Regions from separate parts of the Homo sapiens genome. Here region 1 is linked to region 2. Evidence: fine-mapped expression QTL. A gene starts in region 2. The other region holds a variant in brackets. All regions are shown on one strand. Distances are from middle to middle.

Region 1 (2,910 bases), 39 kb before region 2:
TTTGGTAATTTATTATAGAAGCAACTGAAAGCTAATATACACTCATATAATTTCAGCTGCAATATGGATAAAATAGACCTCCATGTCACACACACGGCACGTGCTGTCATTCCTCCACCCTGCCCCCCAACACCCGGAGCTGATCCCTGTCCTTGTGTTCTCCCCAACCCAAGCTTCAGGCAGGCATAGAACATGCACCCATCAGAGCTGCCGCTTGAGATTCTACTGTCCTAGATGTAGGCTTCTGTGGGCTGACCTGGGGCTGACCCCCAGAAGTAGAAAAGTGGTTAAGACAGTTGGTTTTGGAGTTATGCAGATGTGTGTCTAAACCACCAGCTTTCCAGCTGTGTGACTCTGGGTAAATTTCTGAACCTCCCTGAGCTATAAAGTATATGAATAGGCTGGGTGCAGTGGCTCACACCTGTAATCCCAGCACTTTGGGAGGCCAAGGCGGCCGGATCACCCGAGGTCAGGAGTTTGAGAGTAGCCTGGCCAACATGGTAAAACCCCGCCTCTACTAAAAATACGAAAATTAGCCAGGCGTGGTGGTGGGTGCCTGTAATCCCAGCTACTTGGAAGGCTGAGACAGGAGAATTGCTTGAATCTGGGAGGTGGAGGTTGCAGTGAGCCAAGATCGCGCCATTTCACTCCAGCCTAGGCAAAAAGAGTGAGGCTCCATCTCTAAAGAAAAAAAAAAAGTGTTTGAATAAAACTTTGTGGAAAGCATTGTGTGAGATGACATATATCAAGTGCTCAGCATAGCATCTGACACACAATAACCTCAGAAATGTTTAGGTCATCCTTCCCAAGAAGGTTACTGCCTCAATAAGCAGGTGAGAGTTGTACTGCAGGACAAGTTACAAAGAGATAATGAGGAAGACTGGAGAAAGGTCACAGGTGGTGCATTTCCTAGGAGTGATCTGTCTTCTGCATCCAGAACCTTGGAGGATTGTGGAAGATAAGACAGACAGACAGGTCAGGGCAAGGTATTGGTAGGCACTGATCACCAGACTAAAATGCATTCAACAGATGGTCAAGGAGGCCTAGTAACTCCAGTTTTGTTAAGGGCATAGGTTGGATTGGAAAAGGAGAGGCTGAAGACAGAGTCGAGGAGGACAGCCCTCAAAACCCCTGCCTACAGTCCTGGGCCTGACACATAGTCCTTGATAAGTATAAGTTTTCTGCCTGAATAAATGAATGCATTATTAAGCCAAGTAATATACCCCAAGAACCTAGCTTGGTGTTACACTGATTTATGGGCTTAGAATGAGGGCCCACACTAAGAGAAAACAGATAAGGCAACTTACAAGGCTGTTGACCAGCTTTGTAAACTGTTCTTCAAGAAACAATCCCAAGCTTTTAGCTACTATACCATTTTTGATATTTAATGAGCTGACGATTAAAAATACTTGTTTGTTGCCTGTTACTTGAAAACTATAAATGCCAATGCAGTGGACTCAGGGTGCCACATTCTTAGTTAATTAAGCACCCCCATTTGCTGCACTAACGGGTAGCTTTTAATTTGTTCCAAAGGGAGCTAAGCAGCAAGCCCCGGCTG[T/C]CTGGAGTGCTGCTATGAAATTCCTTTGGTTGGTGCTCTATGGTCAGTAGGGACGGAAGCAGCAAATGGCAACATAATGGAGAAAACATCTTTAACTCAGGAAGGGAGGGGAGGATAACCCTTAAGTGCTCTAAATGAATAAAATTCAAAAGCTAAAAACCCACACCATGCTCCAGCCATATATGGCAAAGAAGCAAAGGCCTGGATACAGAGAGGCCGGCAGCGGAGCAGGATCCACAGGCAGCAGCTAGGGGCAGCCATGAAGGTGATCAGACAGCCAACTTCCTGAGGGGCCTTTGGGCATTCTAAGCCATTTGAAGACACTAACTTCCCAGAGCAACATTTCCAATTCACCTCCAGCATAGCTTAACTGCCATTTTGGAAAAATGCATTTCAAGAACTGTGCTAAATATAGCGCCCCTCTTCCAGTGGAAGGCAGGCCAAACTTTCAAATCAAGTAAGGAACTTTCAGAAAGCCAGTAATGTTTTAGTGAACAGAGTTAGAGTGAAAATTTAAATAAGAGCATTTGCACAAAGAATTGAGAAGACTTTTTTTTTTGAGGCGGAGTCTTGCTTAGTTGCCTAGGCTGGAGTGCAGTGGTGAGATCTCGGCTCACTGCAACCTCCGCCTCCCAGGTTCAAGTGATCCTACCCTCTCAGCCTCCCGAGTAGCTGGGATTACAGGTGCCCACCACCATGCCTGGCTAATTTTTGTATTTGTAGTAGAGACAGGGTTTTGCCATGTTGGCCAGGCTGGTCTCAAACTCCTGACCTCAGGTGATCCACTCGCCTTGGCCTCCCAAAGTGCTGGTATTACAGGCATGAGCCACTGCACCCGGCCGGAAGATGGGTTTTTTTAAAGGTACACCTAGTAACTACTTAAAACTAAGGCCAACTCATATATATATATATATAAATATATATAAAAATATATATAAATATATATAAAAATATATAAATATATATATAAATATATATAAATATATATAAAAATATATATAAATATATATAAATATATATAAAAATATATAAAAATATATATAAATATATATAAAAATATATATAAATATATATAAATATAAATATATATATATAAATAAATAAATAAATAAATATATATATATATATATTTTTTTTTTGAGATAAGAGTCTTGCTTTGTCGCCCAGGCTGGAGTGCAATAGCGTGATCTTGGCTCACTGCAGTCTCCACCTCCTGGGTTCAAGAGATTTTTTTGCCTCAGCTTCCCAAGTAGCTGGGATTACAGGCGCCCACCACCATGTCTGGCTAATTTTTGTATTTTTAGTAGAGACAGGTGTTTCCCCATGTTAGTCAGCCTGGTCTCGAACTCCTG
Region 2 (2,910 bases):
CAAACCACTCCATACCTATCCCTCAGCCCAGCAATACTAAGGAAATTCTCATTTCATCCCATTTTTCATATGAAGAAATTGAGGCTCATGGCTCCCCAGGAGCAGAGCCAAGGTCATGTCCCTGCTGCCTGAGTGCAAAGCCTACGTTTTCTCCACAAGCTTAAGGCCGTGAGTGCCCTGACGCCGGGCCCACCCGGGCCTCGGTGGGAGACTCGGGGCAGACGGACATCATCTCCAGGTTCTGGGGCCGCCCAAGGCCAGAAGCCCAGGTAGGGAGCAGGGAAGCTGAGAGGGGAATGGCAATCACCCGCGCCCATCGCCCAGACAGTGTCAAAGGAGCGCTCGGTTCCACGAAGACGGCTCAATGCACACGGCGAAAGTCTGGGCACCTCTCCAGTCTCGTCTCAGGCACCTCACCCAGATGACACCCACGCGGCCCTTTGGCGGAAAAATATCCGCAACTCGAAGCAGGGAAGGAGGATATCAGCCGCGAGACCTTCACAAGACGAAGGGCTGAACCGGGAGGCGAAGTTTCTCAGGAGGTCCCGGAGTCAGAGGAGGGGTAGGAGTGGGGTGACGGCCCCAGGCGAGGAGGAACAAAGCTACTAGAAGAGCGGGGCGCATCCCTCCCCGGTGCTCCAAGTCCCCTCTCCGGCCGCCCGGGCCTTAGCAGGGTTGTGGACTGAAAGTCCGGGAGAATACCCCCTTCCCTCTCCAAAGCGCAACCCGGTCCGGGTGGCTCGGGGGATCCCAGCCCGGGACACGCAGCCCTGGGACGAAGGAGGTCCCGGGCCAAGAACAAAGGGTGGGGCGCCCGGCCCAGCCCCGCCGCCCCTCACGCCCGCCCTCTGAATGGGACCCCGGCCGGCGGCCGCACCTCATTAGCAACACAAAGCCGGGGTCGGGCAGCCGCTTTCATCTCGGCCAGGGCCGGAGGACACGCGTCCGGGGAGGGAAACCAGGAGGATGCGCGGGAGGAGTGAGACCCAGGCCGGCCGCGGACCCCGCGAAGAGCAGACAGGTTGGCGCGGGCTCGCCTCCCCGCGAGCACCTGTGCGCGCTGCGTCCCCCGCGAGTTGGCGACGGCAAGAAACCCGCCGCCCTCGCCTTACCCTCCAGCCACAGGTGTCGGCGCCCCGCGCGCGGCCGGACCCGCCAGCGGCCACAGCCAGCTGCGAGCCGTTGAGGCAGGCGTTGACCGTAAAGAAGACGGAGCAGAGCTGCAGCCACGGGGCCATGGCCGTGCGCTCGCCCAGCCAGGCCGTTCTCTGCGCCCCGGCCGCCCGCCGCTGGCCAGCCCCGAGTGGGCGGTGGCCGCGGCGGCCGCGGCGGCAGCGAAGGGGACCGCACTGGGCATGCGTTGCCAGCCCGGGCCCCGCCCCCACCCTCAGTCCTCGTGTGCTGGCCCCGCCCCCACAGCCTGGCCCTCCAGTTGTGGCCCTGCCCCCGTAGACCACGCCCCTCTGGTCACGCCCCCCAAGCCCCCACTGAGACTCTGGCAGCCGCAGTTTCTTCCCCCTCACTTAGTAGATCTTTTTTTAATCCAAAGGATTTGTCCAAGTGATGCTCACTCTATGCAAAACCTGAGGAAAACACAAAGAATGTAATAATAATAATTTTAATAATAATTTAATAAACACCTGCTATGTGCCAGACCCCTTTCTGTATACGCCCAACCACACAAGGAAGTGTATTATTGTTATCCCAGTTTTAGGCGCAGAAAAGTTAGGGGAACGTGACAGAGAAATCCTGGCTCCACATTTACTAGTAGGACTTTGGACAAAAGGCTTGCTGTCTCCACAATACTTCCTCACCACAACCCCCCGTCCCCCTCACCCTCCTGGAAGCTAGAATAAGTATCCTAGTCTGGGGAGAGTTCTGTTGGTTGAAACATAACAAGTGCTCCATAAAGGCTACAATCTATCATTAACTGACTCTCATAAGGTCACACAGCTGTTACCTGCCAGACCTGAGATCCAATCCAGACCTGACTAAAAACAATACTCTCAGCTACTACACTTGTCAAACATAACCTCATGAAGTGGATATTATTTCTGTTTGGAAGAGGAAACTGAGGCTCAGAGAAGTGGAGTAGCCCAAGCTATCCAGAGTTTCACCGCACTCTTCCCAGCGCTTTGCCTTTTATCTGAGCACCTAAACTCTCCCACTTTGTCCCTCTCCACTACCCCCTTCCTCAAGAATACCACCTCCTCTTCCTAAGGGCTTTTTCTACTTCTGACTTTGTCCCCGTGTCCGATACATTTCTCCAGCCTGGATCCAAAGTTATCTTCCAAAAACACAAATCAGACTACTGACTTATCCCAATTAAAACTCTAGGCTGAGTGCAGTGGCCAATCCTAGAGGATCGCTTGAGTTCAGGAGTTAGAGGTAACAGTGAGCTATGATCCTGCCAACCGCACTGAAGCCTGAGTGACACAGTAAGACCCTGTCTCTAAAAACAAACAAACAAACAAACAAACAAACAAACCTACCACCACCACCACCAACAAAAAAAAACAGTAAAATTATGTGTTCTGTGTTTGGAGGAGGATTAATAAAAATAAAATCAATAAATAAAACTGTTCTATGGTGGCTCTTATGCAAAGGCCATTTAGAATAAAATCCATACTGGCTTTCTCTTCCACTCTGTCTTTACCACCTGGCTCCTGCTGCACAGAACTCCCCCCAGCCCCAGCCTTATCTTGGTCTTTTTGCCTCAGGAAACCTTGGAAATTGTCACCTCCGTCCATTCAACAGGGCAGCCTCCTCTATATGACTCTCCTTCCAGGGCCCAGAATCCCCTCCCTCTCCTTCTCTGGCCTGGCCTAAGCTCAGCCACTGCTAACACAGGATTCCTGCACTTTCTCTTGTGGCTTGTGTCTCCACCACCCTGCCCACACGTCCTTGGAG

Which allele goes with the higher level. Positions count from the first base shown, and alleles are read on the strand shown. Sizes are in standard deviations (SD) of each study's normalised expression.
As copies of C replace T in region 1, the expression in iPS cells of the gene that starts at base 1,305 in region 2 goes down (small effect, 0.38 SD a copy in HipSci).

Evidence for each region.
Region 1: its variant is fine-mapped to the expression of IL17RD in iPS cells (HipSci, PIP 0.95).

Annotation. Positions count from the first base shown.
Region 1 is chr3:57,124,726-57,127,635 of GRCh38, forward strand. The region is part of intron 1 of IL17RD (interleukin 17 receptor D); the gene reads right to left. Among named protein-coding and RNA genes, the nearest start is that of IL17RD, 39 kb to the right of the region's middle. The variant T/C (reference allele first, on the strand shown) is at 1,559.
Region 2 is chr3:57,164,049-57,166,958 of GRCh38, forward strand. It overlaps IL17RD (interleukin 17 receptor D), which reads right to left and starts at 1,305. Exons shown (of 13, transcript NM_017563.5): 1 at 1,113-1,305. The coding sequence starts at 1,238. RefSeq lists silencers at 1,084-1,423, 1,444-1,493.